Linked DNA regions of Homo sapiens. The protein of the gene in region 7 interacts with the protein of the main gene of each other region in a biochemical or structural test. Each region holds a gene or a part of one and is shown on either strand. Other genes may lie near its edges. The genes, in order: PMM1, COPB2, CEP85, CHGB, CCDC149, ANKRD13D and MFHAS1.

Region 1 (3,927 bases), on a different chromosome or scaffold from region 7:
GTGGATCACAAGGTCAGGGGATTGAGACCATCCTGGCTAACATGGTGAAACCCTGTCTCTACTAAAAAATACAAAAAAATTAGCCGGGCGTGGTGGCACGCGCCTGTAGTCCCAGCTACTCGGGAGGGCTGAGGCAGGAGAATGGCGTGAACTTGGGAGGCAGAGCTTGCAGTGAGCTGAGATCACGCCACTGCACTCCAGCCTGGGCGACAGAGCGAGACTCCGTCTCAAAAAAAAAAAGAAAAAAAAATTAGCTGGGCGTGGTGGCAAGCGCCTGTAATCCCAGCTACTCAGGAGGCTGAGGCAGGAGAATCCCTTGAACCCGGGAGGTGGAGGTTGCAGTGAACCGAGATCATGCCATCGCACTCCAGCCTGGGGGACAAGAATGAGATTTCATCTCCAAAAAAAAAAAAAAAAAAAGATATTAGCCAGGCATGGTGGCACTTGCCTGTAGTCCCAGCTACCAGCTACTCCAGAAGCTGAGGCGGGAGAATCACTTGAGCCCAGGAGTTCGAGGCTGCAGTGAGCTGTGATAGCGCCACTGCACTCCAGACTGAGTGACAGAGTGAGACCCCGGTCTCTAACAACAACAACAACAAAATAGCATCACAATCAAGTTGATTTTTGAGGAGCCAAAGAACAATAACAAAAATAGCCTCACAAAACAATGCTTAATATTTGCTCTGGGCAAATAGATCCAGATAAAGGCCTGGAGGGAAGCCACACCACAGTAACCACATTAACTTGGGGAGCCGGCCAGGCTCCCCAAGTGCGGTCAGAGTGGACTTTACCCTTCTCTGTTACGTTTCCATTCTTTACCAGGAGAGTGTGCTCATGAAAATGTGTACGATTAAAAATTAACTTTCAAAAGGCACTAAGCACAGAGGCTGGCCCGTAGACAAATTAATAGGCTGTTCTTATTCAGGTTGTTATGTTTGTGGAGCAAAAGGTCAGAGGGAGGAGTCAGAACTGTGCCTAGGCCCTGCCACTTTTGTTCCAGTTCTTTTATTCATTTATTTGTTTGTTTGAGACGGAGTTTCACTCTTGTTGCCCAGGCTGGAGTGCAATGGCACAATCTTGGCTCACTGCAACCTCCACCTCCTGGGTTCAATCGATTCTCCTGCCTCTGCCTCCCCAGTAGCTGGGACTACAGGCACACGACACCACGCCCATCTACTTTTTGTTTTGTTTTGTTTTGAGACTGAGTCTCCCTCTGTCGCCCAGGCTGTAGTGCAATGGCACATTCTCGGCTCACTGCAACTTCTGCCTCTCGGGTTCAAGTGATTCTCCTGCCTCAGCCTCCCGACTAGCTAGGATTACAGGTGCATGCCACCACGCCTGGCTAATTTTTTGTATTTTTAGTAGAGATAGGGTTTCACGATATTGGTCAGGCTGGTCTTAAACTCCTGACATCGTGATCTGTCTGCCTCGGCCTCCCAAAGTGCTGGGATTACAGGCGTGAGCCACTGAACCCAGCCTAATTTTTGTATTTTTAGTAGAGACGGGGTTTCACCATGTTAGCCAGACTGATCTAGAATTCCTGACCTCAGGTGATCTGCCCACCATGGCCTCCCAAAGTGCTGGGATTACAGGCGTGACCCACAAGCAAATGGCCCACCTTTGCTCCAGTCCTGCTATCTTCCTCCCGGATCCACCCCTGCAGGAAGGCCTCCAGGGCCCAAGCCAGGGCAACTTCACCACAGAGGATGGGGAGGGGCATTCGGGACCTAAGAGAGGAGGCTAAGACCTGGGTTCCCATCAGCCACTGCCCAGTAAAGCCCATCCCACTGCTCCCCCACGCTAGGAGACCTGTTGGTTGGTCCTTGAGGCCCCCAGACTGGAGGGTGGGTTACCCACAGGGAGGGCATGAATGAAGCCTGCTTACTGATGCATCCAGCTGGTGAGGGGGCTTTTGGGGACTCACTCACAATGAGACCCAATGGGAGAAAAACTGAGCAGAGGTAAGAGGCTCAACACAGCGAGAGTCTTTAGAAGAAAACTAGACTCTTACCCTCACTATTCCTCAGTGTCCTCACAGCAAACAGGCTAGGCCTGGAGCCTCTCACATCCGGGTGGGTAGAGCTCATAAACGAATTTGAAAAGAAGCCCTCTCTGCTCCACGACTGGGGGTGGAAGGTAAAGTGGGTGATGGGGCTTCAGAAACTAGACCCAGTCCCAGGCCTGCAAAGGTCGGGGTGGGAAGACTCCGAGACGCCCTGTCTCCCACCAGATGATGACTGACGCTTGGCTGTGTGCTTGTGTGCCTGGAACCCCGGTTCAGAAGCCAGCTCCGACCACTGGTGTGTCGTAGGGCTGAACTAGGGTGGGATCCCCAGCTCAGGAGGCGGGGGCGTCCGTGAGCCAGGCCTTAGCGGCGTGTGACAGCCTCCGGGGAGGGAGGGAGCTAGGCCCCTGCTCGCAGCCTCCTCCCTCCAGTACTGGATCCAACCCCAGCACTCCCAAGCAGAACACAGGCAAGGACGCTGCGGGGTCAGTGACGTGAGGGCCAGGTCCCCTCACTCCCGGTGGGTGGCCCCGGATGTCAGGGGGCCGGGTACCGCCGCATCCCACACTCGGTCCCCGGGTGTCCACGGTCACGCTGCTGCAGACCCCACACTCAGCCTCGGGGGTGTCCGCGTGACACTCCCGGTGGGAGCTTCCAATCTTCAGGGTCCTACCTGGCGAGCCGGCGTGAGGGTCCCGTCCACGTCAAACAGGCAGAGGACGCGCTCCTTCCTGCGGGCTGCCTGGGCGGTGACTGCCATGGCTGCAGGTCCGCGCGCGGGGCGGAGTCCCGAAGATGCAACGGCAGAAGCAGCTCAGGGATAAGTGCTGACGGGGCGGGGCATTAGGGGGCGGGGGCCAGTGGACTGCCTGATTGGCCAAATGAAGAAGGGGCGTGGTCTAGGCGGGCGGAAGCGGGGGCGGGGCCTGAGCTGATTCTCATTGCTCGTGGAGGAGGGGAGCGCGGCATAGGGCGGAGCGGAGCCCTCCAGGTTCGATTGGATTGCTCCAAACAAGGCGGAGGAGGGGCCTGAGCCTGGGACCCGCAGGAAGTGAGAGGGTGAACCCGGAAGACAGGGGCGGGGCCAGAATTGGCGGGTTGATAGTGATTGCAACAGGCCGATTAAGGGGCTGGGTCGGGCGGGGCCTCTACCATGCAGTGCAGTGTCTAGTGGGCCAGGCGGGACTAAGAGAGCCGAGGTCGCTCCCCATCCACTCTCACAAGGTTTGTGGCCATCTCTTTGCCTTACAAATTTTGAGCTGTAGGAAATCTCCTGAGCCGGGCGCGGTGGTTCACGCCTGTAATCCCAGCAGTTTGGGACGTCGAGGCGGGCGGATCACCGGAGGTCGGGAGTTCGAGACCAGCCTGACCAACATGGAGAAACCTCGTCTCTACTAAAAATACAAAATTAGCCAGGCGTGGTGGCGCATGCCTGTAATCTCAGCTACTCAGGAGGCTGAGGCAGGAGAATCGCTTGATTCCAAAGAAGCCAGAGGTTGCGGTGAGCCGAGATCGCGCCATTGCACTCCAGCCTCAAAAAAAAAAAAAAAAAAAAAAAAGGAAAGAAAAGAAAAGAAAAGAAATCTCCTGAAGGCCTTTGTTCAGGCTTTGGACTTTGCCAAATTGCCTTCCCCGAGCCTTATTCCTTCTGTCCACACATAAGACCCAGCTCTCAGGGTCTACCTGCTTGGAGACCTTCCCAGATTCTTCTTTTTTTTTTTTTTTTTTGAGACAGAGTCTCGCTCTGCCCAGGCTGGAGTGCAGTGGCGGGATCTCTGCCCACTGCAACCTCCACCTCCCAGGTTCAAGCGGTTCTCATGCCTCAGCCTCCCGAGTAGCTGGGACTGCAGGCGTGTGCCACCATGCCCACCTAATTTTTGTATTTTTACTTACTTTTATGTTTATTTTATTTTATTTTTGAC
Region 2 (3,500 bases), on a different chromosome or scaffold from region 7:
TTTTGATAATCGAAGAGGGAGAGCAGGGTACAAAAGACACTTCTTGGCCTTAGGGACCCAGAACTCATCACAAAAATAAATATTCCAAAAACAACAATGGAGGGGAAACTCACATGTTTGGGCTGAATTTCAATTCTTCGTATGAGTTCTGTATTGTCCCAGTCATAGAAGGCTAAGCCATTTACAGATCTGACTCCCAATAAGAAGCCGCCGTAGATACCTAAAGGGAACATAAAAAGAGTTTTGCTTAGGCATTTTTGAGCCATTACAAAGAATTTAAAAATGTATCATATGTAGATCACACTCACTTTCTGCTCCAAAATCTGGTTTAAATGATTTTTTTTCCTTAAAGTTCTTAAATATCTTTACAATGCTGTTGCTCTCTCTTATTGCATACCTGGGAGAAAAAAGGGAAGGCAAACATAACATGTTATATACTAAATCATAGTTCTACCAAATGTTGGAAATATCTTCAAATATTTTTCAGTAATTATGCAAAAATATAAAATAAATATTTGAAGATTATCTGATGTACTGTTTTCCTAAGAGATCAGAGAACTCCTTACAGTTGGACAAATGATGAAAGGGTTTTATACTGTGTATGACATGAATTACTAGGGCTTACAAACCACTTTAGAAACTGAAAATGACCCAAATGTCCACAATAGGTGAATGATTAAACAAATTATCGTATATTCATATAATGGAATGCTACTCTGCAAATAAAGAAACCAATTACTGATCCAGGCAAGAATATGGATGAATCTCAAAAACATTATACTGAACAAAAGATGCTGGACTCAAGAGTACATACTGTATGATTCCATTTATATGAAACTCCAAAGACAACTCTAATCTATATAGTGACAAAAGGCACTCATCAGTGTTTGCCTGGGACTGGGGAATGGGTGGATGGGGGGTATGGACAGACTGTTAATGGAGACAAGGGGATTTTGCGGGGATGATAGAAATGTTCTATAATTTGATTGTGTTAGTAGTTACGGATTACATACATTTGCCCAAATCTACTGACATGAACAGTAGTCCTCCCTTATCCATGGGGGATACGTTCTAAGCCCCAATGGATGCCTGAAACCTCAGATAGTACTGAACCCTATATACACTATGTTTTTTCCTATAATGTAAGAGGTGGGCAGCATATACAATGTGGATATGCTAGACAAAGCGATGATTCACGTCCCAGGTAGGATGGCTCAAGATTTCACCATGCAACTCAGAACACTGGGCAATTTAAAACTTATGAGTTGTTTATTTCTGGACTTTTCCACTTAATATTTTTGGAACACAGTTGACTGTGGGTAACTAAAACTGCAGGAAGGGAAACCACAGATCGGGGGATCGCTGTACAATTAAGTGGTACATTCTGTCTTCTGTAAATTATACCTCAATAAGGGCGATTTAAATAATAAAAACTGTGACAAATGGTTCATTAATCAGCCATCATCAGCAACAACTGCTTATATTCAGGCCTCTGCCTTGAAAAAAGGAGCTGTGGCTATCACTGGATATTTAAGATTGTCTGAGGAAGTGATGTGATGAGGGCTTTGCTCAGGACAGGAAAGATGCTGAGCAAGGTCTTGGCTGGATAGAGCTGAAAAAAAGGACTATCAAAATAGAGGAAGAGGTGTGCTGAGAGAAGGCAATTCATCAACTATAATTTTGCTTAAGATAACACATTACCTTTGAATACATAGAACTGTATGTATATGTGTATTTAGGAAATTTATGAAAATATCAGAACAATTCCATACCTCTCAATAAATCTTACTGTTGTAACATTTTAAAAAATGTATCTTATTACACAACGCTGAGGCTTAAGTTACCCCACTGTTGGGGGCAAGATGCAACATAAAATGTGGGGCAAACAAAACTAAAAAAACTGTGAAAATGTAATTCAGTTGTGTGGTCTGAAAACACTAAACCCCTAATGTTTATTACGTGCATTAAACAGGAATCAAAAAGGAACCAGAGCCAATGACTAGTAAAAAAGTCAGAGTTAAATGATCTTTCCTGCTTTTAATGAGAACATTTTATGAACATTCTGAATTCAGACAGAAATTTGTTAAGAATGGGCAGTGGGTACTATCACAGAAAATAAGTTTTAAAAAAGATTTAATAAATTTCTCATCAAAATGATCAAACCACAACATCACTCCCAAGTAGCTCATAAAGGGGCAGTAGCACCTCAGGACACTACATCACAGGGAGGGCATGCCAAGGCCTGCCAAGGCAGACATGAGGGTCTACTGTGCCTTAAGCCCATAAAGCACCAGGTCCTGCCATGGGCTCCATCAAAGAAATGGGTGCTGGGTCCCCAGTTAAATGGAATTATTGTATCAGCTTGAGTGAGCCAGCCTAACGCAGAACAAAGAAAGCACTAAGACGGCTCATGCTATACACTCGCCTCTGACTCTCATCTTCCAATGGACAGCTCTGGTGAGAACTGTTTTTTAACACGGAGAATCACAGCCCACATCAAGCCTTGAGAGTCTTCAAGCAGCACACAACACATCTGCAATCAGGGCATGCTGGCTATCATACAATCAAAACTTACTCTGAAGAATCGTGGGCCCATGCAAACTCCTGAGCAGATCCAAAGCTCTTGTTTCTCAATGCCATTGCTGTGTAGATGATATACTCCCCATCACCACACACCACCACAAACCTAGAAATCACAGAAGCCAGGGAGGGAAGTACAGAGGACCAAAGACATGTAGAAGTTAAGGAACAATAATTCATGTTATGGTAAAAGAATTCTAATAACAAATGTTATTTAGTTCATTATTACAATTTAACATCTTTTAAAAGTTATACATTTCTTTGAATACAAAGTTACAAAAAAAATTCTAGCCAACAAATTGAAAAGGAAATTATGAATATGGCATTACTGCTGAAATGTTATTGGAATGGTCTTCTCATAAATAAAGGCAACTGGAGGCAGGAAGGTGAGAATGGCTGGAAATGCAAAGGAGGAGGATTCCAATTATTCAACCAGTATTTGTTGAGCACCAAGATGCCTAGAACTTTGCTCATGACATTTATACCACAGGAAGGCACTATATTATTACAAAGACTATCTTCATTTTAAAGCTGATCATTCAAATGAATAAAAATATCTCACTCCAGGTTTTAAAGACTTAAATTCAGCAAAATACAGAGGATATTTTAACATTTAAATAATGAGAAAACAGAATGCTGCAGAGTCAACGAAAATTTTCCCAATGGACATAAGACAACTATCTTTAAAGTTGTTTATAACACTGTAAAGGCTGGTATCAAAAGACTGCCAAAGGCAAAACTTACAGCCAAGAATGTTTTACGATATTAAGGGAAATATGCATAATGCATTCTTAACCTTTATAAGACAATTATATTACAAATAATTATGGATACCATTTACTGAACTAGGCGGCATACTTGGTTTATATCTTTTGTCTTTTTCAATACTCAGCACAGCATTATAAGATGCCCAGACCTGC
Region 3 (3,500 bases), on a different chromosome or scaffold from region 7:
TCTCAGATGTCCCCCTGGTCCAGGGCTCAGGCAGGTTAACAGCCCAGAAAGACAACCCTTGCTCTGGTAAAGCCACTTCCTCACAGCAACCCAGAGGCTGCCAACTTCCTGAGAGGACTGCTGAAACTTTCCAGTGACAAACTTCTGTTATGACTCAGGGAAGGTTTGCCCAAGAGAAAGTGAGTGGGAAGAGATCTGGTTCTATAGAACGACAGAGGAGCAGAGGTGGCAGAGATAGATAGGGACATGAGGCTGGCTGGACCTGCCAAAGGTTCCTCCACGCTGCTGCCTGGGGGACCTGGCTGAACACCCAGGTGTTTGGCTCTAACAAGCCAAAGTGAGGGGTAGAATAGCGTGGTGGTGGTGATGGAAGGGTATGGAAAACTGAGGAGTCTGTTAAGATACTTTATTTTATAATCAAAATACGCAATACAAACAAATGGACATAACAAAGATTCATATAAATAACTGGTTATAAACTTTATGAGGAAAAATACCCGTCAGCATGGTGGCTGGGCTCCCAATGCACAGGGTGGAGACCAACCAGGCGGCTCTGCCTTTAAGCAGCAGGAGCCCAGAGGCTGAAGGGCTGGCTGGGTGGGGCTGCTCTGAATGGAAGGGATAAGTCACTCCATAAATAAAACACAAACTTGTAAAAACACTTAAGAAAGAGCCTCATTCAGGCCCAGGCATGAGGTCCAAGATGCTGCCAACAGCCCAAAGCTTAGCAAAAATCTTGTAGTGGCTGACTGGCCCACACGTGGCCCCTGCCTGGCCTGGCTCCAGATCTAGAGGAGGCACGGCTGGCCCAACAACCAGATACTAACAAGTGTGAGATGCTCCCTAAACCAGGAGGCAAGAAAAACCAGAGGGCAAAGGTCCCTCACTAAAGCCCCAGAGAAACAACCCAGGAAACACTAAAAGCTGTACTTTAAAGCTGACTTGTACTGGGTACTCTGAACTTTCAAGGAGGCCAGAGCAGGAAAGGGAAAGGAATAACCCCCACCACCCCCAACACAAGAGAGGCACAAATTAGAGGGCTGGGCACAGGCTGTAGCCCTGGGTGAGGGGGTAAGCAGCTTGACAGTTGCTCTGTGGTCTCTGGGATATAATTCTGCCCAAGGCTAGAACCACAGAGAAGAGTTTGCACTCTTAAGTCCAGGAAGGGGACTACCTGGAAGGCCTGAGAACAAAGGAGAAAGTTTAGCACACTAAACACATGGCCAGGACCCTAGGGACACAAGGCAGCTGGAGAGTGGGATCTCTTGTTAAATGGCATGGTAGGCAGATTAGAGTCCTGGCTATAATCCCTAGGGCCCCAATCCTAGTAGTTACGTGCTAACCAACACATTACCCTGAGGCTTCTGGGAGAACAAGAGCCCTGAGGAAGAAGCAGTAAGACCAGGCATGAGAAAACCCAGAAAGCCAGCTCAGTTCCCAAGAAGGCTGGCACATGGGGCCTGAGAATTCTTAAATGGCCATTGTCACTGGTACTTGCTCAGCCTTTCCAGGCCCCTCTGATGAGCTCTCTAATCAGCAGGACCAAGGTGTGAAGTGGGAATGAACATGGATCCATCCCATTGGATGGAGAAGAAAGGTGGACAGCCTGTTCGTCTCTCATGTCAGCCTAGGGCTGGGAACAGTTTGTGAGGACTTATCTGTTGTACCTGCCAAAAGTTAATTAGTAACTCACCGTCTAGAGTGAATTAACAGGACAAACGTAATCCAACATGCCAGTGTGGGTAGGACACAGTTCCCTAATCAGCCCTTGGCCCCCAGATGCAGGCTCTCCCCTCCCCTCTGAGACCTCTCTGGGAATAGCAGACAAGAGAATGTCAGGGCAGAAACCTGCTGGACTAGGCTCTCAGCAGCCCAGCTCCTCCCTGGGGGAATCCCCCAGAATTCCTCACTGTGTGACACAGTTTTCTCCCATGTCCTGGGCATATCTGTCTGACATGGTGGTCCTTAAGTCCTCAATGTCACGACGCAGCTGTTGAACCTCTTCTAGTTTCCTCTTGATCACATCTGGCTTCTGCAAATCTAGCTGAGTCTCTGGGTGCTGTGCTGCTGGGGAGAAGAGCATTTCAAGAGAATGTTAGTTATGAGACATTTTCATGTGGAGGGTGCAGTATGGATAGGCAGTATCTTGAACCCACAGTCTTGGGACATGCACTTTAAAAAAAGCATCTGGGGACAGTGGGTTAATTTGCTGCTGAAGGTCCACTTTTAGTTTGTCCTGCATGCAAGTACCCCATAGCTTGTTTCCAAAAACAGATTTGTGAACACCTACTTTGTGAAACAAATAAATGTCCAGAGGGCAGTGGCCAGGACTATGTACTCTGTCTACATATTACCACAAGAATATGGGAAAGCAGGATGGGGGAGAGAAGAGAAAGAAGGACCCTCCTTCCTGGGCCCCAGACTGGTCTGAGGACTCACAGTGAATGCCCAGGAGCAGGGAGAGATTGGGGTCATGGCCCTGGGCCCTCTGGGTCACAATGCTACAGACAGCCTGCAGATCTTGAAGGCAACTGGCCAACTCCTGGTGCAGCTCAAGTGCCAGCTGGGCCGTGTCTGGTGAAGGTGGAGACCCTGGTTGGGCCTGGCGCAGGTGTTCCTGGAGTGTCAGATTCTTCTCAATCAAGTCCTGGTTTTGCACTGAAAGCTGAGCAGACAGATGGGTAAGCACATTAACTCAGGCCCAGGGAGAGGAAGAGTATCTGTGCATGAGTGTGTGGGTGTGGAAGGGATGGGTGAGTCATAGGCAGTGTCCCTCCTTCCCCAACCCTACCCCTGCCAACAGGCTTTTAGCACTTCTCCCACTATCAGTATCAGGCCTGGTTCTTCCTGTGGGTAGGTTGGGCCCACAGGGCTCTAGCACTGGAGAGGAAGCCAACCCTCAACTGGTTCTGAATCATCAGCATCCAAGTTTCTGTTCAAGAACCAGAGAAGATGCTCCCGCCCCTAGGAACTCTATCTCAAGCCAGTCCCTCAGCCAACTCTGTTAGCCAGGCTATTAGAGAAGGCTTAATGTGAACCGTGAAATCTGAGGAGACACTGGTTTCAATCTCTCCCTGCCACCCTGACAAAAGTGGCCACCAGCCAGCCTGATCACAGTGTGTCAGAGGAATAAAGAGAGTAAGAAAGACAATATGACAGCTAGTAGCCACTAGGTGGGGGGCTGGAGAAGCTGGAACCTGGAGGATCCAGCCCTGGAACAAGTCCTGCCTTTTCAAACTCTCACCTCAGTGGAGTCAGACTTTATTACAAAAACCATCTATTCATGTATGTCTGTCTGTTTCCCTCTCTTCCTGACAGCTTAATCCACTTTCCTTCCCTTCCTACCTTGATTGTATTTTTATAGAGTCTGAATAGAGTCCGTCCTTCAGTCCCAGGCCCTCCACCCACACTGGGCCATGTGACAATCCTAACTCAAGGAGGTTCCTTCCTAGGCACTAGGCCAGTCAGTGAACTTGGTTGCCCCCTGCTGACAGCTCTGT
Region 4 (3,500 bases), on a different chromosome or scaffold from region 7:
TGCCTGGCTAATTTTTTTTTTTTTTTTTTGTATTTTTAGTAGAGACAGGGTTTCACCATGTTGGCCAGGCTGGTCTCAAACTGCTGACCTCAGGTGATCCACCTGCCTCGGCCTCCCAAAGTGCTGGGATTACAGGTGTGAGCCACTATGCCCACCTGAAAGATTTTTAAAGGTGAAAAAATAAGATAAAATCTACTGTTCCCAGCCTGACTAAAAGTTTAAAAGCAGAGGACAGTGTTGAAGAGGGCAGTGTTTTCTGGATTTGTTTGAATCAGTGTGGCTTCATGCATAACAGAGACTGCATAGTTTTGTAAAATTGACCTCATAATGTCAATTTCCAATGGGTACTGCTTATATTACTGTTCAAATTTTATTTTCAGCAGAAATGGTTTCATATTGAGAACACTTCACAGGCTGGACTCAGAAAGCCATTAGTCTGCCTCACTGGAATGCACTGCCTCTACCTGAAACCCTTCCAGTTCTCAGGCCTGGAACTCCTGGTACCATTTGGTGGCACCTTCTATTCTAGTAAGCTATACATTAAAATATCTTAGCTAATTTGTTGTGTAAATAGGCCAGAATTTTAAGTCACCTTTCTAAGTTTCTTGCTTCTCAGCTTCCTGATTCTCACTGTCAGAAGAGCAAAAGGCAAAGAGAAGAATGATTTTTAAATCTCCCTCTGTCATTGTCCAACACTTCCATAACCCCCCTCCTCATCTAATCACAAACCAGCATTTCCCAAACCCCCTCCACCCAAAGGAAGTCCGGTTCTAAAAATCCAAAGTATGGAACTAAGGAATTTAAGAACGGATAGACATCTGAAAGACTATCACTGAGTTCAACTCCTTCATTTTACTTTGAGGAAAAGAGAGGCAAACTGTCTTTCCTATAGTCACACAGCTGCGAAGTGGTAAAGCAGGAACTAGGAGTCATATCTTCTGTCTCCCAGATACTGGCCTAGTCAATCAATACTCTTCCTAGTGCATTATGCCCCCAGGTCATTTGTAGATAAAGTAGAAGGTGATGTGGAGGGAGTAGGAACAAGGATCACTGCAGTGACCAAGATCTGCCTGCCGTGTGGGACACTTACTCGTCTTCAGGACTTGGCGGCACTCAGGGGTGATGGGTGGAGCGCTGGACTTCGACAAGGCATTTGAGAGGACCTCAATGATGCAGCGAGTCACCTGGGGGGAAACCCGAAAGCAGGTTGGAGAAGCTGGTATCACTGGATGACAGACTACTCAACCCAGAGCTGCTGTCAAGGAAGACTTGATTACGTGACCTGGGCTGATGCAGTATTCTTAGGGCGGAGATACAGATTTACAGGAACAGAATGAAATCTTCCAAACTTCTACACAGAATAATGCAAGAAGGCACTGAGTTGGGATTATCTGGAGAAGGGAAATAAACACCCATTTCTGAACCAATGGCACAGCTATCCTCAGGGGTGCTAAACCATCCTGACAGGACATAGGAGCTCAGTGCAGGAGGGGCATCCCTTGCTCACATTCTGTCAGCAATGAAAACCTGGCTTTGTAAGATTATGTCATGCGTGTGTTTGGTTTGGTATAATAGGGACTGGGAGAATCTAGAGTCTAGACACAAGTCTAGATTCTAAGATTGACATTGCAACTTACCATTCCTTCATTGTGGTTCCTGTTATCCACTGGCATGGAATTGACAGCTTTGAAGGAGAAAAAGAATGGAAAATGACTTGAGTTGGTTTTTGAAAGCTGTGTGACCCCAACTGACAAAATCACCCCACATTAGTTGTTGTTTTTCCCCTGGCAATGTCTTAAATATATTTGGAAACAAATGCTATTTTAGATCCGGTATAAATCAAATCTAGACCACAGACAAGGAGGGGACTTCTGGGGAACCAGAAATGTCCCATTTTTTAATCTCAGTGCTGGTTACACAGGTGTGCGTATTAAGCTGTATACTCATGATCTGTTCCATTTTCTATATATTTTATTTCAATTAAAAGTTTAAGCTAGGGCTGGGTGCGGTGGCTCATGCTTGTAATCCCAGCACTTTGGGAGGCCAAGGCTGGTGGATCACAAGGTCAGGAGATCGAGACCAACCTGGCTAACATGACAAAACCCTGTCTCTACTAAAACTACAAAAAATTAGCCAGGCGTGGTGGCACGCGCCAGCTACCTGGGAGGCTGAGGCAGGAGAATTGCTTGAACCCAGGAGGCGGAGGTTGCAGTGAGCCATGATCGTGCCACTGTACTCCAGCCTGGGTGACAGGGCCAGACTCCGTCTCAAAAAAAAAAAAGTTTAAACCAAACTAAGTCTAATAAAACAAGAATGCCCTCCTTGGTCCTTCTCTGCCTACCCCAAATAGGTAAAGATCTGTGGCTCTCTCTCCGTATCTCTGTTTCCAAAAATATATCCTCCCAAAACTTACTTCCTTGACAAAAACATGGTTATGGATGTCTTCCATAATTAATTACCTCATTTTTCACCCGCAAGGCCTTTGCCTGAACAAGCTCGTTTATGCATCCGTATCAACATTGTGTTTCTCTTTCTCCACACTGTTTGCAACCATGTAAAGAACATGGCAGATATCTAACCCTCCTAGTACAGCATCAAGTCCATAATATTTTATGCAAATTGGTGTTTAACCATTGGTTTATAAGAATATTTTAAAAGAAAAATTTTAATTTATTTCAATAAAATTTCATGGGATTCCGCCTATCTTAAAACAGTGTTTGAAGTTGCTTTGTCTTCTTCAAAAATGCTTCAGGTAATTTTAATTTTTCAGTGCCATTTTTTTTCTGTCTCAAAGCTGCTTTGATTCTTTTTTCACTTTGACTTTGTTCTAAGCCCTTTCTATTAGAACAGCCCAAAGCATTTACATGTAAGTCCATCTCTACAGTTCTCCTGGCATTCCTGTAGCAGGCAACTGAGCAGGAGACGCTAGTGCAGAAAATTCTTCTAAGTCCCTGAGAAGAGAGTAGAGCTAGCTGGGGCAAGTTCTCAGACATCAGACATGAAAGCTATTCAAATGCAGCAACCTGACCTTTCCTTGCAAAATGCTTTGCTCTAAGCCTCTTTAAACATTCCCCACCCCCTATCAATTACATATCATGGGGCTCAACCTGGAAATAAAACACCTATTCATTTACTTACTTTACCAAATTTTTCTTTTCAAAGCATGATCTGGGATCACTTCAACTGTTTCAAGAAGCCCAAAGTTATGCTATGAAGACCCCAAGTTCCTCCTGAAATGCTTATCAGGCAAGATCCAGTTGGCCCACTTTTGGTACCCAAGGTCCAATATACTCAACTGTTCTTTCATCCTCCAAATGGCTACTTGAGAACACACCCATTTCAGCACTTTCTCTTTCCGCTGGAAATCTGTAATATCTTCTGCAAATAAATGACTGCGAGAGAATAACTCCCCTAATAAATCAGATGACTTTTAAAAAATGCAGCTTTACTAAGCCTTCTTGATAATGCAGTTTCTTGCTAATACTTTCCCTTTTTTTTTA
Region 5 (3,500 bases), on a different chromosome or scaffold from region 7:
CACATCCACTACGCCCAGCTGATTTTTGCATTTTTAGTAGAGACGAGGTTTTGCCATGTTGGCCGGGCTGGTCTTGAACTCCTGATCTCGGGTGATACGCCTGCCTCAGCCTCCCAAAGTCCTGGGATTATAGACATGGGCCACCGTGCCCGGCCAAATTTTAAAAATGAATAAAACTTGCCCCACCTTGGGCAAGACAGCAAAGTTCACCATGCCCAGAACAGTGAAAAGCAGTTCATCAATTTGTTCTTCATTCATCCAAAAGTAGCATGGATGTGGTGCAGACAGCCAGAGGGCCAGAGGACACCTGAGGGGGGATGAGGGAGGACACAACAGTGACCTAGAGTGACCAAGGGCAAGATACTAGACTAAATTAGGAGAGTGTGGGTAGACAAAAACAGCCCACCCCAGCACCCCAGCCAATGACTTAGCCTTAGTCTTAGTATTTCGTTAAGTCCCTTAGAATTTAAATACAAATTCAGGGAAAGGGAGTGGTGTGGCTTCATATGCAGATTACATTTCCACTACTCAAACAACAAAAACTTGTAATCAAAATTAAGGCATTATAGCAAATTATAGTTTTCACACACCAGAGTTTCTGTCGTGAGGTTCATGCTCACTGTTCCACTGCTGCCTTGCCCGGCAGAGGCCTATGCACTCATAAGCATTATTATTTCATTTGATCCTCACAATTAGGATCACCTATGAGGTAGGTACTTTTACTACCCTATTTAAAGACGAGAAAAATGAGGGTCAGAGAAGTTACATGGTGCAGTCATTCCCTCAACATCCATTCTCCCTCTTCGAAAAGAAGCCCCCCAATTTTACTTGGGGATCTACCCTAGCTCCACTCACAGTCCACGTGTCATGCAGCAGGGCTCTGAACACAACTCCAGGCCTAAAACAATCAGATCACTACCTGCCTGAGCGATTTCTTGCAGTTTAGGTGAGTGATCTAAGTGGATTTAAATGGAGCATCCCAGGGTTTCACAGGATCTGCTAGAGAAGGGTCTGTCTTCCCCTCTGGACTTGAACTTGAAAGGATGGGAGGCTTAGACTAAAGCCAGGCAGCAAGCAGACTCAAAGATGGAGAGAAACTGTCTGAGTGGTGAATCAGCCAAAAGCCAGCCCTAGCATGGAATTACTAGTCATGTTGGTTATAGTCACTTCCAAGGGCTGCCATAACAAATTATCACAAACTGGGGGACTTAAAACAACAGAATTCAACTGTTGCACAGTCCTGGAGGTTTGAAGTCCAAAATTAAGGTGTTGGCAGGACTGTGTTCCCCAGTGAGGCTCTCAGGGAGGATTCTTCCTTGCCTCGTCCTAGTTTCCGGTGGTCACCAGCAATCTTTGGCTTTCCTTGGCTTGTAGCTGCATGACTCCAGTTTCTGCCTCTGTTGTCACATGCCTTCTTCCGTCTGTGTCTTCACATTGTCTTCTCTTTGTGCATCTCTGTGCCCAAATTTGCCTCTTCTGATAAGGACACCAGGTCATTGGATTAGAGCCCACCCAAGATGACCTCATCATAACTTGATTATATCTGCAAAGACCCTACTTCCAAATAAGGTCACATTCACAGGTGTTTGTGTGGTGGCAGTTGAGGGGAGGGTGTTAGGACTTGAACACATCGTTTTGGGGACACAGTACAACCTACAACATCAGCCAGTAAATTGCCTCTAAGCTGATCCACTTTGGTTTGGGTTTTTGATCTTTTGTACCAAGAGAAAGGCAGGGCCAAGACTTCCCCCCAGGTCTCTTATTATCTTCAGAGTCTAAGTCAACAACTGAAACCCAAAGCTGGGTCTTTACCTTAACCACAGAGCTGGACTCTATACCTACTCAACCTCTCCTTTCCAAATATCAGTGGCTAGGCCAGGCACGGTGGCTCATGCCTATAATCCCATCACTTTGGGAGGCTGAGGCAGGATTCCTTGAAGCCAGGAGCTCAAGATCAGCCTGGGCAACATAGCAAGACTCTATCTCTACAAAAAAAAAAAAAAAAAAATTGGCTGGGCATGGTGGCACGTGCCTGTAACTCCAGCTACTCAGGAGGCTGAAGCAGGAGAATCCCTTGGGCCCAGGAGATGGAGGCTGAAGTGAGCCATGATCGCACCACTGTACTCCAGCATGGGCAACAGAGTGAGACCTCATCTCTAAAACAACAACGACAAAAACCAAAAATCAGTCTCTACTTTGGGCGGAGGCCCATGGTTAACTGTCTTCTGCCTCCTGGCCCCTGCATACAACATGCTCAAGGAATAGGAGATTGATTGCTATCTAATTAACCAAAATTCAAATAGTGAAATGGAATTATGTATAGTTTATCATAGAGTGGTGGGCTGAGCGATGACCAGGATTTTTATCTTGGAAATAAAAAGTTATTGATTGCCTGCATACCTGTACTTTGAGATGTCTCCAATCTTGAAAGCTCACCTCAGGTGGCGATAAGAATATCTGCCCCTCCCCAGACATTTAATTTCCAAAACAGAACCCTGGTCATGCTTCTTTCACACGCATGGGTGTGTTTACTTCCAGGCCTGAAAGAAGGCTGTAATTTCAGCTTATTATACCAAATATATGAAAATAAAACTGACCTCTGTAGGATTGTTTTAAATGAAAACTGCTTCCTAGAGGCAAGTGGAGGAAGCAACTGATTGAAAGAGAGGACGGGGCTCTGGGCAGGTGATGGAGAGGGGATCCAGGGTGGGAGACAGCACCCAGGACTTCTGCAGAAATAAATGCAAGCCCACGAAAATCCCATGTAGTCCAGATTAGCTGTGCAGTGATGTCTTCCACAGGTCCTTCTGCCAGGTCCCCAAACCATTTCGTAACACCACAGCTGCTGAGCACACTCTTCCCTGAATCTTACCTGTCTGGTACCAGACCCAGTCACACCCATGGAACCCCTGCCAGCCAAACTTGACTGGGCAGGGGAATTACCTGGGCAGCTCAGCTTGTAAGAAAGGCAGATCAGGGGGCTGCAACCCCAGGCACTTTTCAGCAGTAGGTGTATTAGTTTCTTGTGGCTGCTTGATATGGTTTGGCTCTGTGTCCCCACTCAAATCTCACCTTGAATTGCATTCCCATAACTCCCACATGTTGTGGGAGGGACCTGGTGGGAGATAATTGAATCATGGGGCTAGTTTCCTCCATAATGTTCTCGTGATAGTGAATAAGTCTCACGAGATCTGATGGTTTTATAAAGAGGAGTTCTCCTGCAGAAGCTCTCTCTCTTTGCCTGCTGCCATCCATGTAAGATGTTACTTGCTCCTCCTTGCCTGCTGCCATCCATGTAAGATGTTACTTGCTCCTCCTTGCCTTCCAGCATGATTGTGAGGCCTCCCCAGTCATGTGGAACAGCAGGCCCATGAAATCTCTCTTTCTTTTGTAAATCACCCAGTCTCAGGTATGTCTTTATAAGCAGCATGAAAACGGACTAATACATTGCTGTAACAAATGATCATAAACGGGGTGGCTTAAAACAACAGGAGTGTATT
Region 6 (4,036 bases), on a different chromosome or scaffold from region 7:
CTGGGCCGCATGGCGGCCAGCAGTGTTTCGGGCTCCTGCAGAGTGAGCCCCAGTGTCTCCACATGCACCACCTGCCGGTCATGGTCCACTTCCATCACCAGGGCTCCTGCCTCTGCCGGCCGGTAGGGGTGGACAGAGGGGGCGCAAATCAGTGCTGGGCGCCAGCAGTGCAGAGAGGGCGATCATGTACCCTCAGCCACCTGCTGCCAAGTGGGTCAGTCTTGGCCCCTGGATGCCCCTCCATCCCCAACCTCAGCTTCCACATCTGGAAAGTGGAGAGAAAAGGCAGCACCGTCCTCCCAAGCCGCAGGAAACCCAAGGGCCGAGGAGCTGCAATGAGTTTGTCCAGAGCTCACCCTGGCCCTTGAAGATGAAGCTCCTCCGGCCCCGCTGCCAGGTCATGTGCTCGAAGCCCAGGAGACTGGTGTCTACTCGCAGGCTCTCACCCCGCTTCCACACGCGGTACACATCGCTTGGGCACATCTTAGACACAAGGGGCACTGCAGGGTGCACAGGGGTCACTGGGGGTCTTTCCAAAGGCCCCACCCCAAATCCCTGGGAGCCCAGAGGTCCCCACTCACCCCAGCTGGTGAACTCCCACTTCATCTCAACGTAGAAATCGGGGGCCTAAGAGAAACCAGAGCTGCTTGTCAGCGCCCTGCCTGCTGCTGGCTCCAGCAGGCCTGGGAGCCCCTTGTCCACAGCCAGCCCAGCCCTTCATCAGGTCTTTTTTTTTTTTTTTTTTTTTTTTGAGACTTGCTCTGTCACCCAGGCTGGAGTGTAGTGGTGCAATCTCGGCTCACTGCAACCTCTGCCTCCCTGGGCTCAGGTGATTCTTCCACCTCAGCCTCCCGAGTAGCTGGGACCACAGGTGTGTGCCACCACTCCCAGCTAATTTTTGTACTTTTTGTAGAGACGGCTTTCACCATGTTGCCCAGGCTGGTCTCCACCTCCTGGGCTCAAGTGATCCGCCCACTTTGGCCTCAGAAAGCGCTGGGATTACAGGAGTAAGCCACAACGCCTGGCCCTTCATCAAGTCTTGACGCACTGCTATGGCTCAGCTACGCCCAACCACTCTGCCCTGGAGAGGGTGGGCCAAGTGGGGCACTACAGTGGTCTTCAGACAATGAGGCTGTAAGCACCTGGAGGTGGAGGGCCAGCCTCAACCTGGCCATGAGCCTGTGCAGAGCCCTGGGGGAGCCTTTGTTTCCACTGGGTCTCAGAGTCCTACTCTGTAAAGGGGGCACAGTGGCTCCCTCCGAGCCTGCTCCTGGGGTAGGGGGTATGAGATAGTATGCTCTGCCAGCCAGGCCCCTCCGTGTGCTTCCAGAAGGGTGCGTAGTAGCAAGTATTCCAGGGTTTCAGGCCATAATCCACCGAGTCAACCTGAAGTCCCTGCTCCAGGTAATCTGCATTCTTCAGGAGGCCCAAAGCTGGCAAGGCTTCTCTTCCAAAGGGTCCAGTCTCTCCCACGTGAGCCTGGCCGTCTCTCTTTCCTACGTGACCCTGGGCTGGGGTCAAGATAGACAGACCTCCTTGCTGGTGGCAGGAGGCACACTGCACAAACTGGGTGCCTTTCCAAGGCCAGGCCTGGCACAGTAACCAGGGTGGTGCCCTGCCATGGTACCCCACCTCCATAACTGTGCCCTGCTGTACCTGGCGAAGTTTGTTGAGCAGTTCCGGAATGCCCGCCAGCCTCTGCGTGGCCCTCTGGTAGTCCCGATACTGGAGCACCAGCTGCACCATCTCGGGGTCTCCAGTGCTGACTGCCTCCTGCAGGACTGCGGGCACCAGGCTGCTGAGGGGAGCCCTCCAGATGACCCCAGGCCTGGCTGCTCACTGCCCCCCGCCTGCCAGCCTCAGGGGGAGCCCCTTGTCCTCTGCAGTACCTGCCCAGCCCTGGCGGTTCTCTTTGCCCACGTTGGCATTGTGTCGAAGGAGCACTCTCACAGACTCCAGGTTTCCCAGAGACACGGCCAGCTCCAGTGGGGTCCGCCCGCGGGGGTCCTCCTGTTCAATGTCGTGCTGGGGGAGACGGGACACTCACAAAGGGCAGGAGAGAAGAGGGCAAGGCAGGGAGGCTGCCAGGGCGAGCAGGGTTGGGAATCGCTGTGGGAAATAAGGACGGCGGACTGACCAGGGAGATGGCAGAGGGTGGCCTGCGTGTCCTGGCAGGGGAGAGGAGGGGGCAGGAGGGAAGGCAGGGGCAGAGCCGGGGTCTGGCGGCGGGGCCTGGTCAGGCAGAGCTGCAGGTTGTCAGGAGTTTGGCGGAACCTGGGGACCAGGACCAGAGTTCTTGTTCTCAGCTTGGGTCAGCAAGGATGCGGAAGCGAGTTCGGGCGAGCAGGGCAAGGCCCAGCGCAGGGGAGAGGAGGCCAGAGGCTCAGGCGCGAGGGGCCGGTGACCTGGGCTTGGGATCGTGCAGGGGAGGAAGGCCCAGGATGTGGCTGCGGAGCTGAGCGGGCGGGGGGGGGGGGGGGGCTCCAGGACGGAGGCCACAGCCTTGGGTGGGGGACCCGGGGGAAGGGCCGGGTGCCCCAGCGGGGCCTCACCTGGTGGCTGTGCAGTGCGGCCTCCAGTTCGCGATGCCGGTTCGCCCAGACGAGCCGGTGCAGCGGGAAGGTGGGGCCCGGGCCGGCCATGCTGGGCCTCAGCGCCGCATCCCGGCCCCGCCTCGGCTTCGGGCCTGGCACGGCCCCCTAGCCTCCCCTCCGAGCCGCGCCCCAGCTGCGCCCCCCGCGGCCCCCGCAGCAGTAGCGGCGGCGGCGGCGGCGGCGGCAGCGCGGGCGGCAGGGAGGGCGGGGCGGGCGGCGGAGCGGGCGGGGCTGCGCCGGGCCGGGGCGGGGCTTCGCGCGCGCCCCCGTCCCCCCGCAACCATGGCAACCGCGGCCAGGCCAGCGCGCGGCAGAGCAACCGCGAGCGCCCGAGGAGATGCCCGGCCTTGGGTCTGCGCCCCGACCTCGGTCGGGCCCGGGTCCGCTGGGGCGGCCTGGAGGGCGGTGCCCGGTTACAGCTCCGCCCGCGGCCCGCAGGAGGCGCCCCGAGCCCTGCGCAGACCCCCGGAGCCGGGTCCGGAAGAGGAAGGCGGGGCCGGAGGGGGCGGGCACTGGGCCCCTCGGTAGTGCACGCGCGTGCGCGGCGGGCCGCGGTCCTGCTGCAGCCGTGATGCCTGCGTTTCCCCCGCGGATCCCCTTGCTCGCCCCGGTCTTCCTACCCCAGGTCCCGCGGTCACCGACTCTGCTGGGGTGTGCGGGTGAAGTGGGGCGCCCCGGCTCCCCTCACCCGGCCTGGAGACGAGCAACGAGCAGACGCCACTAAGTGCTTGCCGGCTGAGCGGGAAGCACCTTCCCCTGGGACCTGGCCGGTGTCTGCAGGCCCAGCGATGCGGGGAGGCGGCCCCCGGGGCCCTGAAGTCAGGGATAGGAGTTCGGGGAGAGAGGGGCGCAGGCCCAGGCAGCGGCAGAGCCGTCCCGGCGGAGGACCGCCCGCGGCGAACGGCTGCCTTCGCCCGCCGCACGAGTCCCTTTTGCAGAGGCTGCGGTTGGCTGCCAGCGTCAGGAGAGGAAGGCGAGTTTCGAAATCAGGGCCGGCCCCTCCACCCACACCGGAACTAGGGTGCAGGCCTCCGTCAGCTCAGTTCCGGCCCTTGATTACTGGAGGCCCAGCCTGGGGTCTGGGGCCCTGGTTTTGCTAGGTGGCCAAGGCTGACCCTCTATTCTCCCTTTCCCTACGTGGAACATGATTGAGGAGGGCCAGCTAGCTTGAGCATCACTTCCTGCTGTAGGGCGTCCTCAGTTCTGAGACTCTGGGCTGGAAGGCCTGATTGCCATTTTTACCCTGCCTTCTCCCTGTAGTCACATGGCGCCTGTGCCATCTGGGGTCACTTTGCCACCCCACGCTATGGTGTCAATCTGTGAGGTCCTGGGGTTGGTAGCAGCCCGAAGGCTTCTGAATGCCCAGAGCTCACCTGCTCACCACTACTGCAGCCCTCCCTGGCCACCCCTTTTCTCAGAGGCGGTCCCTTCCCTGAGCCCTC
Region 7 (3,500 bases):
CCAGGAGGTGGAGGTTGCAATGAGCTCAGACAGCGCCACTACACTCCAGCCTGGGCAACAGAGCGAGACTCAGTCTCAAAAAAAAAAAAAAAAAAAAAAAAGAAAGGGCTCCCATGGATAGAAGCAAGTTAATAGGTAGATGAGAAGAAAAACAGAAATGTCCAATTCCTCCTTTCCCCACTCATTCCCCTCCTATAATACAGAGTTAAAGCCCCTCACCTCTTCACGGACAAAGGGGAATAACCTCAGAGTATGACATAAAATATCCACTAAATAAAAAATACTGGTTGGGTATGGTGGCTCACGCCTCTAATCCCAACATTTTGGGAGGCTGAGTGGGGAGGACCATTTGAGGCCAGGAGATCAAGACCAGCTTGGGCAACATAAAAAGGCCCTATCTCTATTTCACAAACACACACACACACACACACACACACACACACACACACACAAAAAGAAAAAAAAAATTAAAGAAAAAATACTTTAGGAAATTCTAAACTACTTGTGCAGAGATGGACTTAAGAGTCTATTCCAGGGTTTAAAGAAGAGGCACCTAATATTTAAAATAATTCAAATACTCCAAAGGCCTTTCTAGCCTTCTAGAACTCTATTCTGCACAGTATTTGTTTATCCTAGTGCCTGATTAAGGTTTTGATTTTTACATAAAACAAAGTCCCAGGGAGTTCAGAGGCCTATTCATAAAAAGAAAAGCCAAGAAGCATCAATATTAATAAAGCTTAACCAAAGAGATATTGAAAAACCTTTGTAAAATTAAAAACAATGACTAATTCAATCCAAACAACTAGGTCATGCTCAAATTCCAGTAATTCTAAAACTTAGATATAATAAGGCAAGAATTTTGCTTTGCTTCAGTGGTCAAAATGAAGGACCCATTCAAGGGTAAGACCAGTCATAGACGCACAATGGGAATGCTGGAGGAACACTGTGAGGGGGAGGGAGTTGGGAAGCTAAACAAAGCCAGATAATCATTACAATACTACCTGGGATTTTCACTGAGTGTGTGAATAACAAAGAAAAAGAGATAGTTCTCAGGCAGGGCATGGTGGCTCAAGCCTATAATCCCAGCACTTTGGAAGGCTGAGGCAGGCAGACTTTGAGACCAGCCTGAGCAACACAGCGAAACCCTGTCTCTACAAAACAACACAAAAATTAGCCAGGCATGGTAGGGTGTTTCTGGAGTCCCAGCTACTCAGGAGGCTGAAGTAGGAGGATCATCACCTGAGCCCAAGAGGTCGAGGCTGCAGTAAGCCATTATTGCCCCAATGCATTCCAACCTCGGTGACAGAGTGAGACCCTGCCCCCACCCCCCCAAAAAAAAAGTTATTTCTCACAAAAAGACCAAACTATCATTCAGCAAACATCTGAGAGGCTCTGCAGAAGCTACTAAGTCTCGGGTGTGTCTCTGGCTCAGAAGCAGCAAGTGAACAACCTAATCAAAGATATATCATGACGCAACCAAACACCAACAAAACAAGTCAAATATGCTGTGTTGTCGGAGAGGTACACTCCGTGTGCAAGAAACTGAGGGACAGAAGACATTTGGCATGAGATACAAAAAGGCATCAAGTTACTGAGTAAATGAAAGACAGTAAAGCTAAAGAAAGCCACATAACTCATTCTGTCTACTGATTTGGGTTGCTTTCTCCTTATTTTTTAAAATGACCTTAAATAATTTGGAGAGTAGGATATTTAGTGAAAATCTGCAGTCAATGCAAGTTTAACTCACTAAGACACACTCTTCCAATTCAAAAACACAGTATTCACTCATCTGCTTAAAAGGAATATCAAAGCACTTGAATCTTGCTGCAGGCCCGTGTCCTAACCACCACATCTTAATGTACCCTCACTCAACTTCAAGAGTACCAACTCTTTGAGTTTAGAGGTCATACTGGTAGAACAGAATAAAAGCATAAACAAATATCCCACAAGAAGAAACTTGCTCTAAGACAAGTATACAGGACCAACCAATGAGAAGGAAAACAGCAAAAGGAAGGGAATCCTGGCTACCAGCTATGGGCAGCAAGTCTGCAAAAAAGAAAGGGTACCTGCAGGAAGCAGGTAAAGACTTTCTTTTCGGAGCCAGGGTCTTGCCCTGTCGCCCAGGCTGGAGCGCAGTGGCACAATCTCAGCTCACTGCAACCTCCGCCTCCCAAGTTCAAGGGATTCTCGTGCCTCATTCTTCCCAGGAGCTGGGATTACAGGCATGAGCCACCATGCCCAGCTAATTTTTTTGTATTTTTTGTAGAGATGGGGTTTCACCAGGTTGACCAGGCTAGGATGTTGGCCAGGATGGAGAAAGCAGGTCAAGACTTTCACAGTGACATTTAGGCTTCATCATAGGCCATCTCCGAGTTTCCAAAAGAATCTCCTGTCACTCAACCCATTTGTCTTAAATAAGATGTCTTAAAAAGATAATCACGTTGTCAGATTACCTATTTTAAATAAGACAAATAGGTCTTCTCTCTGACAATGTGATTTATTTTTACAAAAAACTATGAAACTAGTGATTGCTGGATGTGCATTTTCCAATCATTTCTTTTTTTTTTTTTAAGAGACAGGGTCAGAGTGCAATGGCACAATCATAGTTCACTGCAACCTCAAACTCCCATGCTCAAGTGATTGTCCCACCTCAGCCCCCCAACTAGCTGGGACCACAAGTGTGCACGCTTAGCTGATTTTTATTTTTTATTTTTTTTTGTAGACACGGAGTCTGGCTACATTACTCAGGCTGGTCTCGAACTCCTTGACCCAAGTGATCCTCCTGCCTCAGCCTCCCAAAGCAAAGGGATTACAGCCCTGAGCCACTGCACGCTGCCCATTACTTTTCTTGTATAAACCAAAATAAGAAAAGAGAAATTTACCATTATACTTCCCGTGGTCAACTACAGTAGGGCAGCTCAGGCCAGAAAATCCAACAGGACAAGGCCAAAATAGGCTTTTCACATAAAAATACTTTAAAAGATATTAGTGCAACTTTATACATTTTTTCTGTATAAAATCAAGAGAGACAGTAATTTACTATTTACTTTTACTGTAACATCCCAAAGTTAAGAAAATTCAAAGTCCAACTTTTTCAGCGTTGCATATAAAATTGTTATAGTTTATAGGACAACTTAACGCTTTTATAAAACATAAAAGTAAACAATTTTTAATGTCCCCAGAAGCAAAATGACTTCTTAAAAAGACAAAGGTGGCCAAGCCTAGTGGCTCACGCTTATAATCCCAGCACTTTGCGAGACTGAGGTGGGTGGATCATCTGAGGTCAGGAGTTCAAGACCAGCCTGGCCAACCTGGCGAAACCCCCGCCTCTACTAAAAATACAAAAATTAGCCAGGTGTGGTGGCGCATGCCTCTAATTCCAGCTACTTGGGAGGCTGAGGCAGGAGAATCGCTTGAATCCAGGAGGCAGAGGTTGCAGTGAGTCAAGATCACTCCACTGCACTCCAGCCTGGGCAACAGAGCAAGACTCCATCTCAAAA

Evidence for each region.
Region 1: the proteins of MFHAS1 (region 7) and PMM1 form a complex in vitro, tested with the Homo sapiens proteins (one large-scale study listed by BioGRID and IntAct).
Region 2: the proteins of MFHAS1 (region 7) and COPB2 form a complex in vitro, tested with the Homo sapiens proteins (one large-scale study listed by BioGRID and IntAct).
Region 3: the proteins of MFHAS1 (region 7) and CEP85 form a complex in vitro, tested with the Homo sapiens proteins (one large-scale study listed by BioGRID and IntAct).
Region 4: the proteins of MFHAS1 (region 7) and CHGB form a complex in vitro, tested with the Homo sapiens proteins (one large-scale study listed by BioGRID and IntAct).
Region 5: the proteins of MFHAS1 (region 7) and CCDC149 form a complex in vitro, tested with the Homo sapiens proteins (one large-scale study listed by BioGRID and IntAct).
Region 6: the proteins of MFHAS1 (region 7) and ANKRD13D form a complex in vitro, tested with the Homo sapiens proteins (one large-scale study listed by BioGRID and IntAct).

The regions. Positions count from the first base shown.
Region 1 is NC_000022.11:41,587,041-41,590,967, forward strand, and holds the start of PMM1 (phosphomannomutase 1), read right to left. Parts: upstream 2,801-3,927; 5' UTR 2,766-2,800; coding exon 2,679-2,765; intron 2,124-2,678; coding exon of another isoform or gene 2,012-2,123; intron 1,728-2,011; coding exon of another isoform or gene 1,619-1,727; intron 1-1,618. UniProt on the Homo sapiens protein: Involved in the synthesis of the GDP-mannose and dolichol-phosphate-mannose required for a number of critical mannosyl transfer reactions. In addition, may be responsible for the degradation of glucose-1,6-bisphosphate in ischemic brain.
Region 2 is NC_000003.12:139,369,148-139,372,647, forward strand, and holds part of COPB2 (coatomer subunit beta'), read right to left. Parts: intron 2,687-3,500; coding exon 2,576-2,686; intron 398-2,575; coding exon 309-397; intron 221-308; coding exon 114-220; intron 1-113. UniProt on the Homo sapiens protein: The coatomer is a cytosolic protein complex that binds to dilysine motifs and reversibly associates with Golgi non-clathrin-coated vesicles, which further mediate biosynthetic protein transport from the ER, via the Golgi up to the trans Golgi network.
Region 3 is NC_000001.11:26,275,700-26,279,199, reverse strand, and holds the end of CEP85 (centrosomal protein of 85 kDa), read right to left. Parts: intron 2,666-3,500; coding exon 2,440-2,665; intron 2,068-2,439; coding exon of another isoform or gene 2,065-2,067; coding exon 1,907-2,064; 3' UTR 392-1,906; downstream 1-391. UniProt on the Homo sapiens protein: Acts as a regulator of centriole duplication through a direct interaction with STIL, a key factor involved in the early steps of centriole formation.
Region 4 is NC_000020.11:5,914,510-5,918,009, reverse strand, and holds part of CHGB (secretogranin-1 precursor), read right to left. Parts: intron 1,685-3,500; coding exon 1,638-1,684; intron 1,185-1,637; coding exon 1,091-1,184; intron 1-1,090. UniProt on the Homo sapiens protein: Secretogranin-1 is a neuroendocrine secretory granule protein, which may be the precursor for other biologically active peptides.
Region 5 is NC_000004.12:24,906,543-24,910,042, forward strand, and holds part of CCDC149 (coiled-coil domain-containing protein 149), read right to left. Parts: intron 1-3,500.
Region 6 is NC_000011.10:67,288,067-67,292,102, reverse strand, and holds the start of ANKRD13D (ankyrin repeat domain-containing protein 13D), read right to left. Parts: upstream 2,801-4,036; 5' UTR 2,643-2,800; coding exon 2,553-2,642; intron 2,438-2,552; exon of another isoform or gene 2,026-2,437; coding exon 1,890-2,025; intron 1,796-1,889; exon of another isoform or gene 1,782-1,795; coding exon 1,657-1,781; intron 628-1,656; coding exon 582-627; intron 501-581; coding exon 357-500; intron 113-356; coding exon 1-112. UniProt on the Homo sapiens protein: Ubiquitin-binding protein that specifically recognizes and binds 'Lys-63'-linked ubiquitin. Does not bind 'Lys-48'-linked ubiquitin.
Region 7 is NC_000008.11:8,883,631-8,887,130, forward strand, and holds part of MFHAS1 (malignant fibrous histiocytoma-amplified sequence 1), read right to left. Parts: intron 1-3,500. UniProt on the Homo sapiens protein: Probable GTP-binding protein. Functions in innate immunity and more specifically the inflammatory response as a regulator of the Toll-like receptor TLR2 and TLR4 signaling pathways.